Linked DNA regions of Homo sapiens. The protein of the gene in region 2 purifies or fractionates together with the protein of the main gene of each other region. This does not show direct contact. Each region holds a gene or a part of one and is shown on either strand. Other genes may lie near its edges.

What was found. Proteins that work in one complex are often made in the same cells at the same time.
Region 1: the proteins of HDAC11 (region 2) and PAXBP1 purify together in Homo sapiens (co-immunoprecipitation; 4 studies listed by BioGRID and IntAct, with this or other methods). This does not show direct contact.

The regions. Positions count from the first base shown.
Region 1 is NC_000021.9:32,733,737-32,740,762, forward strand, and holds the end of PAXBP1 (PAX3- and PAX7-binding protein 1), read right to left. Parts: intron 4,606-7,026; exon of another isoform or gene 4,584-4,605; coding exon 4,437-4,583; intron 3,673-4,436; coding exon 3,518-3,672; intron 1,332-3,517; coding exon 1,214-1,331; 3' UTR 163-1,213; downstream 1-162. UniProt on the Homo sapiens protein: Adapter protein linking the transcription factors PAX3 and PAX7 to the histone methylation machinery and involved in myogenesis.
Region 2 is NC_000003.12:13,483,287-13,490,312, reverse strand, and holds part of HDAC11 (histone deacetylase 11), read right to left. Parts: intron 6,850-7,026; coding exon 6,749-6,849; intron 1-6,748. UniProt on the Homo sapiens protein: Responsible for the deacetylation of lysine residues on the N-terminal part of the core histones (H2A, H2B, H3 and H4).

The sequences.
Region 1 (7,026 bases), on a different chromosome or scaffold from region 2:
TATGTAGGGATAAGATAAAATTAACAGAGCAAATACAGTGCATGACACTGTTCTGCATATTATGTCCTGATCAAGGGTACACATGGGCCTGCTCACAGTCCCACTTTATTAGAGTCATTTGAAATGCTGCAAATTTAGTCGTCAGGAAAATACAACAAAGGATATATTTAAAAATTAATTTAATGCTTGGCTAAATCTTAATTACATATATAATTATCAAACGATAGTCCTTAATTTCCAAAAAAATTCCTCTTTTGAAAATCACAGAATCAGAAAGCATAAACTTTAAAACAAGTTCTCTGAATATTTACAATGTGGTATAAACATTATAGAAGACCATGGATATTAAATTGCCTGGGTGTGGCTAATCAGCAAGGCGTATTCTTTATTGCATATTTAACTCACATATGTGGGATTTTAAATATGACAGACTACTAAAATTCAAATGCATGTATCTGCAAGCTGGGCAGGGAGTAAAATCATGAATGAGACAGGACGGTCAGCCCAAAACCATGCAATTAGGTTGTGGGTTTATTATTTTCAAAAGTGAAATTTCTATGTTCCATTTGAAACTATGTTGCATATTCATTTAGCATTCACATTAAACCCACATTTGACTCTAACGCTGATTCAAGGAAGAAAGTTCAACATTCACTCAATGACTAAGTCCACAACTCAACTCTCAATGTTAAGGCAGCACAGCTACAGTGATAGCAACGCTAACCAAAAGGTAATGAACATTTAGTCACTTGCCAGCCCTTTTGTTACAACAGTGTAGTAATTTCCCTAAGACAATTTGCTACCGGATAATTTTCTGCTGTTAAAAGGCTTCCTCTGTGGAAAAACACCACAAATTTCCAGTGTGAAAGTAAGTCCATGGTGGTATAAATATATATATGCATAATTACACAATTTACACTGCACACATCGTTTACAGGGGACAATTAACTGAGAGGGTTAATTTAAATGACCATACAAAATACTTCAGTAAACAAAGTATGACAGGCAGTAAAGAAAACATTCATAGACTCCTAGAAATAATCTGAATTCCTTTCATTCTGAAGAAATATCATTTAAGGACACAGTATTGAATATAATGTTTTTTGTATTAAAACAAGAATTGCTATTTTACAGTTTAAGAAACTTTACATATATACAAAATTTACACATTGGGAATGGTAATCAAGCAAATAGGTTTTTCAGTCTCATAGATCTATTTTCCTTCGATCAAAGACTTAAATTCTTTCACATTGTGGTCACTTGCAACAGACATAGCATGATCCAAAGCTCGAACACTTGCAAGGAGTTTTACTATCTGTTTTATGTTTTCCCTAAAAGAAAAAAATATAGCAGCATCTCATTAATTAGTATATCTAAGAGAAAATTTGCTACTGATTTCATGGCTATTTTAGAGCTTCTGCAATCAATTTTTCCAAGCACACATTTTCAAAGAAAGGAAACAGATATGCAAGCTACAGCATGTTAAAAAAAAAAAAGTTTACATTTATCCATATAGAACAAAACTTACATATGTTTAAATGACTAGCCCAGAGACAGGGGACCCATTTTAAAAAAGCAAAACAAAATTCATTGAGATCAATGAGTTTCATTAATATTGAGAAAGAAAAGAAAGCAATCTGTTTTCAAACTACTTCAGAGGCCTGTCTCCCATTCCTTCCCAAACCAGAGTCCTGGCTGTTTTAGCGTATACCTGGAACACAAATCGTTATTTGTGTCTCTTCATCACCAATCTGTCAAGATCCAGCATAATTTCCACTCCACCAAAATTCACTAAATAAAGTATAATCTGACTTTCCTTATCACTCCAGCTAGAAGTCATTCTGCTTTCTTACTAGGAAGTAATCCTCAAATTTTAGCACACATTAGAATTACCTAGAGGATTGTTGAAATGCAGATCATCCCTGGCCCCACCCCAAGAGTTCTATTCAAGAGGCCCAGAGTGGGGCCCCGAGAACTTGCAAGTCTATCAGACTCCCATGCCATGCTGATACTGCTGGTCCAGGGACCACACTTTAAGAATGACTGTTTTAACATTTAGCTTAAACCACTCACGAGAAACAAGACATAATATGACATTAGTAATTGTCTCATCTCTTCTACAGAATTGTAGTAAGCACCTATTAGGGAAGAATTAGAATTTGCAAAACTTTCCAACCCACATGAAACCTGCTTTATGTGCACTGCACAAAGCAGGTGCTTACATAGCTGTTAAAGTTCTTTTCTGTAGAAAAGTAAACACTATTTGTTGATATTTAACTTCCAAACAGAAACACTGTTAAATATATGTAAATCAAAGTTTAAAATGTGATAAAATTTATCTAGTAGAAAACACAGAGAAAAAAATATTAGTGCCAACAAATAACAAAATGGCACACACTAAGAACAAAATCAAATCAGCCAAAACCTGCCAAAGAATTTTACCATTAAAATCTTTTTTGTTGTTGTTTTTTGAGACGGAGTGTTGGTCTTTCACCAGGCTGGAATGCAGTGGCGCAATCTCAGCTCACTGCAACCTCTGCCTCCCAGGTTCAAGCAATTCCCCTGCCTCAGCCTCCCGAGTAGGTGGGACTATAGGCACGCACCACCACACCCAGCTAATTTTTGTATTTTTAGTAGAAACAGGGTTTCACCATGTTGGCCAGGATGGTCTCCATCTCCTGACCTCATGATCCACCTGCCTCAGCCTCCCAAAGTACTGGGATTACAGGCATGAGCCACCATGCCTGGCCTAAAATCTTTAATAGCTACTTTAATTTTATTGTGGAAAAAATATCCAATTTTCTTGCAGGAAAATAGGTCCTTTTTCAAGAAAGGGGAATGAGGGATCAGAAGAAGGTTTTGTTATAGGGGTATGACTAATGGTGTGATCTAAACAAAAATTAGACTTTGACATTATGAAGATATATGAAATTAAAATTTTAAAAAGACAATTCCTTCAAACTGCCCTACTTAGTGTTATTATTTACTTTTTATGCTAGAGATTTATCCCAGAATTACCTGAACACCCATAAATTAATGTCCACAGAAAGGCTAATGGTTCACTCACTCTTTTCTTACAACCCTTGATAAAAATTAGAAATAAGTTGCCCCAAAAAGCCATGAGTGATAACCTCTAGTTCATAATATTGATTAAAACAAAAAATCTCCCCAAATTGGGAGATAAACTTGAATTTAAATCTGCATAATGAAACTCCAAACAAGAGAGTCTGAGACCTCTCTAATTCTTCAAAGAGGGAGACAGAGAAAACAACCGTTTACTCACTCCCCTGAGGGTTGGTCCTTACCAGAAGTCTTTCCTTAGTATCTTCATAAATAACATACTGAAAAAAAGTAAAAACTGCTAAAATGAAAAATTATGTGCATTTTTGGTAGGTTTATAATACTAAGTGAACATACAATTTAAACTAAAATATAAACATCTCTACTTAAAACATTTTAATACTAAATCTGGCAACTAAACAACTCTAGATTACCATTTCATTAATTACAAAATTACCTTGCATTTCTTTTTTCCACATCAGAACACCCGATACTATTTCTATAAATTGTATCCGCTAAGTGTACAAGGTATCGGCAAAAGTTTTCTAACTGAGAAATAGTCCTTTCTCCTTTCAGATTCATGAACCATTGTTTGGGGAAACAATTGATTACCTGTGGAGAAGAAAGACGTAAAATAAAATAGTTAAGACAGAATAAATTAAAGTATTAAAAGCAAAGTCTAGTTAATGGGTATAAATGTATTTCACCAGAAGACGTGCTTCTGAGCTACAGCAATTACTCTGAAGAAATATTCTTTTAAATCTGACTTCCTACATTAACTAAACCAATATACCTAAATTTTTACCCCAACCAATGGGTTAGGCACTCAAAGCAAAAGATAATCTGTCCAATATTTGAGTAAATTAGTAACATAAAACTGACAACCAACTGCTTCATTTTCCAGTCTTCTAGGATGGCCTAAATATACTGAATTTCCTTTTCCAGCAGCTTTTGATGTAAAAATGAGTGGTATAAAAATGAAATTACAGCACCCCCATCCCCTGCAATAATTCCACGAATAGACATCCATGCATGCTGCTAAGGGAAGTCGAGTTGGCCCAGACTGAGGTTAAGATAATAAGGTTATTATTCTGAAATCAAAACTTTTATTTATACCTATAAAAATATCAAAACTTTCACTAATATCTATAAAAATATGGATATAGATGGATATATATATATATAACAGTATGCATTTTTATGTAAAAAATGCTGTAGGGGGTTGGAACTACCTGGGTAGGCAAACTGTCAACCTTACATGCAAGTCCAGTAATCAAAGGGGTTTCATAAAATTCTCAAATCCCTCTTCAAACAAACAAAAACTTAATTCATTTTAAATTATATGCTTTAAAAACTGTACTATGCATTTAACTCACATTTTGGGCTTTTTTGATGCTGTCATCTCCATATTCTGAATTCTGAAAAGCCATGAGAATATATCGATTTAATAAACCATCTATTGATAACTCTTGCAGAGTTTTATTTGAGAAAATGCCATACCACTGAAGAAAATTGCCTAACAGCTGGAAAGAAGAAAAAAAATAGGTAATGTGAAACAATTAGATTAGGTACAAAGTAAATAAGTTACATAGTAAAACACCATATGAAATACAGCAGACCATGTCTTGCCAAAGTACTAAGAAATATTAATACTTTCAAAGGTACAGATATTTCCTAGAATGGTTACATTTGAATATTCAATTTTAATTAGTCAAAATCGAAACAGCCACATGTAGCTAGTGGCTACAGCACTGGTCAGCACAGATACAGAACATTTTCCATCATTGCAGACAGTACTATCAGGGAGTGCTGAGTCTTAGGTAAGTGTCCTCCATTCAAAATTACACTCTAGCTGGTTCTATGCACACCCCCACCCCGCCCCGCGCTGCCCACAAAAGATGGGAGAGTCTGACTACAACCCTGCATGGCTACCATGTATCATGAACTACAACCAAGTTATATCACTTATGCATCTCAAGCTACCCAAGCTCAATCAATATATAGAAAATGAAAGCTATCATCATAAAATGAAAGCCCCATCCCATCCCACCATAAAAACTTATAGTTTCCCAGTTGTTTCTCAACTTAGTAAATGGTAACACTATTCAACCAGCTGCTTGCGGCAGAGGTCTGGAGGTCATTCCTGACCTCTCTCTCAAGTTGTGTGTCTCCACGACCATCCAGTCTGTCCATTTCCCTCAGTTCCTGCTGCCATCCTCCGAATCTGACCCACCTTAATCTCTTCAGAACCCTGCAGTTACTCCAGTGATTATGAGCAAGAGCACTGAGTAGCCTTTCTGAAGCAGGGCTCTGCAAGAGTTCTAAACCTACAGAAAATGATTTGTGTGGCTCTTTACTCAGTTCTCCCAAGAATGATACATAGCTAGTACTGTTACAGATGCAGGGGAAAAAGAAGAATTCATTATAGACAATGGAGGCCTTAGGGCATTAGGTATTAAGTCTCCCACAGAAGCCCAGTTGAGAAGAGCAGCTCAAGAGTCAGACTGGCTGAGTTTGATTCCCATCTCTAATTACCAATGGAATGACCTTGTGCAGGTTATTGTGTGCCTCACTACCCCATCAGTAAAGTGAAAAAACAGCGTGTACCTCATTGAGCCATTCTGAGGATTCAACAAGATAATCTATGTAAAAGGTGCGGGACAGTGCTTGGTACATAGTAAACACACAGTAAGTACTAGTTCCCATAAAATACACAATAAATACCAGTTCCCATTTTCACTATCACTATCCATACCTACTTCAATCTATTATCTCCACATAGCAGACAGAGTAATCTTAAAAATGGTAATTTATAGACCTGTGGTTACGGCCGGGCGCGGTGGCTCACACCTGTAATCCCAGCACTTTGGGAGGCTGAGGCGGGCAGATCACGAGGTCAGGAGATCGAGACCATCCTGGCTAACATGATGAAACCCCGTCTCTACTAAAAATACAAAAAAGTAGCCGGGCGTGGTGGTGGGCGCCTGTAGTCCCAGCTACTCGGAAGGCTGAGCCAGGCAATTTATGGCTGGGCACAGTGGCTTATACCTGTAATCCCAGTACTTTGGGAGGCCAAGGAAGGAGGACCACTTGAGCTCAGGAGTTTGAGACCAGCCTAGGCAACACAAGACCTCGTCTCTTTAAAAAAAAAAAAAAAAAAAAAAAAAAAAAGGCAATTTGTTTACTTACCTTAAACCCTTCCATGACACATATAGTTAACTGGTTTTCAACAAAGGCACAAAAGCAATTCAATGGACTGTGAAAGGGAAATATCTTGGGCCTCTTCAAGCTGGGGACCCCGCTGAGGGCAAATCTGCCTCCCATTCTATTCAAAGTCATCTCTCAGCTCACAGAGATAGATGCATATTCTGATTGCCTCTTCTGGAAAAACTTATCAGAAACTCCAAAGAATGCAACCATCCCTCTCTCACCTACATGTGACCTGGAAGTCCCCAATGGGGGGGCCTTGCTTTGAGCTGTCTCCACCTTTCTGGATGGAACTAATGTATTTCTTACATATTGATTGATGTCTCGTGTCTCCCTAAAATGTATAAAACCAAGCTGTGCCCCGACCACCTTGGGCACATGTCATCAGAACTTCCTAAGGCTGTGTCACAGGTGTGTCCTCAATCTTGGCAAAATAAACTTTCTAAATTAACTGAGACCTGTCTCAAATTTTTGGTGTTCATAGGACAAAGGAATTTTTGGTGTTCACAGAAAAGGCTATCGCCTTTTCAACAAATAGTGCTGGAACAAGTAAACCTTAATCCAGGCCTCACACCCTATAATAAAAATTAACCTGAAAAGAGTCACAGACCTAAATGTAAAACCTAAAACTATGAAACTTCTAGAAGAAAGGATAGGAGAAAACCTTTGTGGCTTCATATTAGGCAAAGATTTCTTAGATATGACATCTAAAGCACAATCCATAACAGGAAAAAAAGATCAACTGGACTTCATCAAAAT
Region 2 (7,026 bases):
ATCTTAAAAAAGAACAAAGTTGGCTGGGCACGGTGGCTCATGCCTGTAATCCCAGCACTTTGGGAGGCAGAGGCAGGCAGATCATGAGGTCAGGAGTTTGAGACCAACCTGACCAACATGGTGAGACCTCATCTCTACTAAAAATAGAAAAATTAGCTAGGCGTGGTGCCGGGCGCCTGTAATCCCAGCTACTCGGGAGGCTGAGGCAGGAGAATCACCTGAAACCAGAAGGCGGAGGTTGCAGTGAGCCGAGATCGCGCCATTGCACTCCAGCATAGGCGACAAAGCGAGACTGCGTCTCAAAAAAAAAAAAAGAACAAAGTTGGAGGCCTCACAATCTGGAATTTCAAAATTTGCTCCAAAGCCACAATAACCACAGTAAGCCACAGTAACAGTACCAAAATAGTGTGGTATTGACATATAGATCAAATGAATAGAATTGGCTGGGCGCAGTGGCTCACACATGCCTGTAATCCCAGTACTTTGAGAGGCCGAGGTGAGCAAATCACTTGAGGTCACGAATTCAGGACCAGCCTAGCCAACATGGTGAAACCCCATCTCTACCAAGAAACACAAAAATTAGCCAGGCATGGTAGCACACGCCTGTAGTCCCAGCTACCTGGGAGGCTGAGATGGGAGAATTGCTTGAACCCAGGAGACGGAGGTTGCAGTGAGCCAAGATGGAGCCACCGTACTCCAGCCTGGGCTGTCGAAAGAATGCAACCCTTTCTTAAACAAACAAACCAAAAAAATGAATAGAATTGAGAGTCTAGAAATAAATCCATACATCTATGGCCAGTTGATTTTCTACAAAGGTACCAAGACCATTCAACAGGGGAAAAACAGCCTAACAAATGGTGCTGGGATAACTGGATATCTGAGTACAAAACAATGAAGTTGGACTTGCCTCACACATATACAAAAATTAACTCAAAATTTATCAAGGCCTAAATATAAGTGAAAACTATAAAACTCTTAGAAGAAAACACATGCGGTAAACCTTCATGACCTTGGGTTTGGCAATGGATTCTTAGATATGACACCTAAAGAAAAGGAAAAAAAGATAAATTGGACTTCAGCAAAACTAAAATTTTTGTGCATCAAAGGACACTATCAAAAAAAAGACAACCCACAGAATGGGAGGAGTTATTTACAAATTAAATAATATCCAGAATATATAAAGAACCCTACAACTCAACAAAAAGACAAGCCAATTTTAAAAATGGACAAAGGACTTGAATAAACATTTCTCCAAATGACATATACAAATAGCCAATCAGCACATGAAAAGATCCTCAGTGTTAATTAGCCATTAGGTAAATGCAAATTAAAACCATGAGATACCACTTCACATCCAGTAAGATGGCCACACTGGGGGGGAAAAAAAAAAACACCAGAAAATAACAAGCATTGAAAAGGATGTAGAGAAATTGGGACCCTGGTACATTACTGGTGGAAATGGTGCAGCCCCCGTGGAGATCACCTTGATGGTTCTTCAGAAAATTAAACAGAATTACCATGTGACCCAGTAATTCTACTCCTAGGTGTATACCCCAAATAACTGAAAACAGGTATTCTAATAAATACTCGTATGCACATGTCCACAGCAACACTACTCACAATAGCCAAAAGGCCTATAAACTAATGAATGGATAAAAAAAATGTAGTGTTTTACAATGGAATATCATTCTGCTGTGAAAAGGAATGAAGTACTGATACATGCTACAACACAACACAGATGAATGTTGAAAACGCTGTGCTTAGTGAGATAAGCCAGACACAAAAGGTCACATATTGTATGATTCCATTTATATGAAATATCCAGGATAGGCAAATCCATAGAGAGAGAATGCAGGTGAGTGATTACCAAGGGGACTTGGGGGGATAAATGGGGAGCAAGTGTTTAAAGGACACAGGGTTTCCTTTTGGAGTGATGAAAATGTTTGGAACTAGAGATGATGGTTGCAGCACTTTGTGAATGGACTAAAGGCCACTGAACTGTACAGTTTAAAGTGGTTAATGGCGAATTTTGTTATGTAAATTTTACCACAATTAAAAAAAATTTTTTTTTAAAGGAGAGAGGAGCCCCTCAGGGAAGAGAAGAGAGAGTTGGAGACCAAGAGGAGCTCACTCCCCTAGAGACTCTCCAGGGTCCCTCCAGGTGCTCCATGGAGCTATGGTCTGTGTCTCCTTCTCTCCACACTATACTGGAACTCATGACAGATAGTTCTGCCCTGGGATCTTTGCACTTGCTGTTTCTTCTGCTTGGAATGCCCTTCCCCAGATGACCACATCACCCACTCCCTCACTCCCTTCCCACATGTCACCTGTGATCACAGGTAGTAAGCCCTTTCCTGACTCCTGATTTAAAACTGCCATCCTCTCACCAGCTCTCCCCACCCCTTTTCTGCTGTCCCTTCCTTTCTTCACGACACTCAGCACCATCTAACATATTATCTCATTACTTAATTATTACATTTATTGTCTGACTCTCCCACCTAAATGCCAGCTCCAGCAGGAAAGGGATGTGGTCTTTTGCTCCATCCCATCCCTGCAGCACCTAGATCACAGAGTGGTGCCCTCTGAGCACTTGCTGGATCCACGTGTTCTGAGCACTGTCCAGTGCAGAGTGCACAGGGGCAGGATGTCAGATGCTGCCCAGCACTAACCGACACTCCATGGCAAACTGTCACCCGAGAATCAACCAAAGGCAAGAGCCCAGTGCTGGGGCACTGGGGAGCTCAACAGCTACCCTCAGAGGGGCCAACCCTGGACCTTGCACACAGCAGGAGCTTGATAAACATGGGTTTCCCTGAATTGACATCTTGCAAACGTCCAGCTCCTGCTTCTCCTTCAGTGCCCTGTTTATTAAGTATCAAAGGCCACACCAGTGCAGAGTCAGGCATGAGCCCCAGGCAGGGGTTGGGGGTAGAATGGGATGAGGCAGGGGAGACGGTGGATGTTACACAGCACACACAGAATGACCAGGGAAAAGCAGCCTGAGAAACCTGAAGGACTCTCTAGGGCACTCTCTGGGCGCCCACAGCAGAGGAAGGAGAAAAGAAACATTGCAGACATCTGCAGGGAGGTGGGAGATGTTCCTGAGCTGCAGCCTTAGGTGCCAGATGATGTCTGAAACGGGCTTGGGTCCCACCTGGGCAGCAAGGGCATGTCACACCATATCACCCTCCTGCTGAAAACCCCCTCGTGACTGTCCAAGGTCCCTGGAACAACATATACACTCCTCCCACGGCCTGCAAGACCTTGTGTGGCCTGGGGCTCTGGCCTCCCTAACTGCACCGTGTACGAGCCACAATGTTTTATTCCCTTCCATCCGGCCTCCCAAGCATTCTTCTCCCCTTTGGAAGATCAAGTCCCCTCCACCCTCCAGGCCTGGGATTCTGAAACATTCTTCCTTCAAAGCTATACATGAGGGCCAGGAGCAGTGGCTCATGCCTGTAATCCCAGCACTTTGGGAGGCCGAGGCAGATGGATTGCTTGAGGTCAGGAGTTCGAGACCAGCCTGGCCAACATGGTGAAAACTCCGTCTCTACTAAAAATACAAAAATTAGCCGGGCATGGTGGCAGGTGCCTGTAATCCTAGCTACTTGGGAGGCTGAGGCAGGAGAATCGCTTGAACCAAGAGGCAGAGGTTGCTGTGAGCTGAGATCGCACCACTGTACTCGAGCCTGGGCAACAAAGCGAGATTCCTTCTCCAAAAAAAAAAAAAAAAAAAAAAAACACCTCTACATGAGTATCACCTGCTCCTTTGTTTAGTCTCAACTCAAACATCACCTCCTCTGTGAGGCCCTCCCTGACCATCCAATTACCCTCTATTTTTCACTTTCTTCATAGCCCTTGGTGCTCTCTAAAATGCTCTTGGGTGGTTGCTTCCTTAATTTTAATCTTCCACGACTCAAATGCAAATCCATGGTGGCAGAGAGCCCTGCTGTCTTATTCTCTCTGTACAGTTGGCATTCAATACAGATGTGTTGAATGACTGACTACTTCTTCATCTTTTTCTTTTTTTTTTTTTTTTTTTTTTGAGATGGAGTTTCACTCTTATTGCCCAAGCTGGAGTGCAATGGCGCAATCTCGGCTCACTGCAACCTCTACCTCCCAGGTTCAAGTGATTTTCCTGCCTCAGCCTCCCAGGTAGCTGGGATTACAGGCATGCACTACCATGCCTGGCTAATTTTGTAGTTTTAGTAGAGACAGGGTTTCTCCATGTTGGCCAGGCTGATCTCAAACTCCCGACCTCAAGTGATCCGCCCGCCTCGTTCTCCCAAAGTGCTGGGATTACAGGCATGAGTCACTGCACCCGGCCTACTTCTTCATCTTAATAGGTGCCGTAGAAACCATCATGTTTCTCCTTTTGTTCTGACTGCCAGGGAGCTCCAAGCCAAATATGCAGCTGGATCACCATCTTGGTTAACTTTTTCAGTGGACATACCTGAATTCTCCTCCTACCCTCAACCTCAGTTTTCTACTTGGGACTCTACCTGTTAATACTTTTATTATTTTTTTTAAGAGACAGTCTCACTCTGTCATACCAGCTGGAGTGCAGTGGTGCAATCATAGCTCACTACAGCTTCAAACTCCTGGGCTCAAGGTCTCCTGCCTCAGGCTCCCAAGTAGCTAGGACTACAAGTGCATGCCACTACACCCAGCTATTTTGTATTATTATATATCACATAGTAAGCTGCTTTCAGGCTTTTGGGGGACCAAGGCCAGGCATGCAGCCTGCCCAACACAGTTCCCCTGAAGGCCCCTCAAATGGGTGGGGCCCTGGAACCTAGGCCCCCCACCCCCAGCCTGGTTCAATCACACCATTCTGTTTTGGTTTCTCCCTGCCCCAGCTGAGCGCCTCCTGTCCCTTCCTTCCCCTCACCCTCGGGACTCTGGCAGGCATGTCCTCCTGGCCCAGCCCTAGGCTGTGGACTGTGACCACGCATGCCTGGGCCCCAGGAAACCAGGGCAGCCAAGCACTGGGCTTCCTGCCAAGGCCTCACACCCCTCTCTCTCCCAGGAGCCAGGTTTCAACCTCTTCCTGGTAATCTTTCATGTGCTCACACTGTCGTGGCCCTATCTAGAATTCTCACACCTCAGGCTGCGGTTGGGGAGCAGGGAGGCAGCAGCCCTGACTGGGAACCTAGAAGACTGGACTGGATGACCTGCCAGGGGTCTCCCCAAGGCCCGGCCAACTTCCCAGGTGACCTTGAGCACAGCCTCTTTCTGGACCTAGGCTTTTCCACCTGTGGAGCAGAGGGGCCTGCTGGCCTCAGGCATCCACTGTGGCTCTGAGTCTAAGGTGAGCTCAGCCAGGGAGCCTGGGGGTCAGGGCTCCCACACTCTTGGGGCAGATAACCTGAGGCATCCCTGACCCCACCCCCACCAAGGCAGGCTGGCAGTACCAGATTCCAATGCAAGCCCCCGCCCCAACCTCCCCTCTGTTCCTACAAAGAGCACTGAACTGAATGCCTCAGCCCTCAGAACTTCAGCCACTAATAGGAGCTGTGTCCTTCTCTGGAAAGAGGTCACAAGCAGGCAGCCAGTGTGCCCAGTTTGGTCTACAGGTGGGCTTTTACAATCTTATAATGAGTGCCACATTAAGAAATCAGGGCCGGGTGTGGTGGCTCACCCCTATAATTCCAGCTACTTCGGAGGCTGAGGCAGAAAAATTGTTTGAACCCGGGAGGCGGAGGTTACAGTGAGCTGAGATCGTGCCACTGCACTTCAGCCTGCTCAACAAGAGCGAGACTCAGTCTCAAAAAAAAAATCAGGAAATGTCACTTAATAATCTGGATTCCTGGCTTCTCTTTGAAGACCAGGTGCTCTGGCCATGCCGGGCCCACAGTGGAGCTGAGGAGCCGCCCCTTGGGAAGGGGCAGGAGTTCACCTCAGACTCTACCACCGGCCCTCCCACTTGTTTCTCTTCTCTGCTGAGCCCTGAGGGTTTCAAATTAGTTTTTAGACCAACAATTTTCAACAAAACTTCAGCAGAAGTACTTAGACCAGAGTCTTAAACTTCAGCCCAATATAAAAAATAGGGTGGGTGCGGTGGCTCACGCCTGTAACCCCAGCACTTTGGGAGGCCGAGGTGGGCAGATGACCTGAGTTCAGGAGTTCGAGACCAGCTTGGCCAACACGGCGAAACCACATCTCTACTAAAATACAAAAAAAATTAGCCAGGCATGGTGGCACGCGCCTGTAATCCTAGCTACTCACTCAGGAGGGTGAGACAGGATAATTGCTTGAACCCGGAAGGCGGAGGTTGCAATGAGCCGAGATCACATCACTGCACTCCAGCCTGGGCGACAGAGTGAGACTCCATTTCAAGAACAAAAACCAACAAAAAAATGAACAAACAAACAAACAAAATAGACCAAAGTGAAAGAGCTATGTATGGTTGGAGGACAGGGGCTGGGGTCTCGGAGGCGTGTCGACAGAGCACAGCTTGAAAGTCATAATGTAGAAGCCTAAAATTCTATGAAGGCTTTCATACGCCCTGGAGAAGGGGAGGACACCACCCTCAGAGTGGCCTGGCCCAAACTGAGGTCTGCCTTTTTATGACCTCTCTCCTTCTCTTGGGGACCACAGACTCCCATGTTCCTCCAACACTAGGGACATGAATGGGTGCCCTGTGAGACTTGGCTTCCCCAGGCTGAGTCACCTCCTGCCTCTGGCCACTCCTGGCCAGCAGCCCCCTGCCCCAGGCCCGCAGCCCCCCAGGCCCGACATCCTGTACCTTGAGCTCATTAAGATAGCGCCTCGTGTGCACCACCAGCAGGTCCTCCTCCGAGGCCTCCCGCGCCTCCACCAGCATGCTGTCAGACAGAAGCTTCTCTTCTGAAACCACAGAGGGAGCATCCTGCTTCCCCACTGACCTCAAGGCCAGGGCCAGCCCCAGACCCTCCCACAGGCTGCAGACTTGGCCTGTGGCAGCCCCTGCCCCAGGGGTAGGTAGGCACTGCTGGCTTGTGGGCCTTCTGAGAAGGGGTAGCCTCCCCAGCCACTGTGGACAGT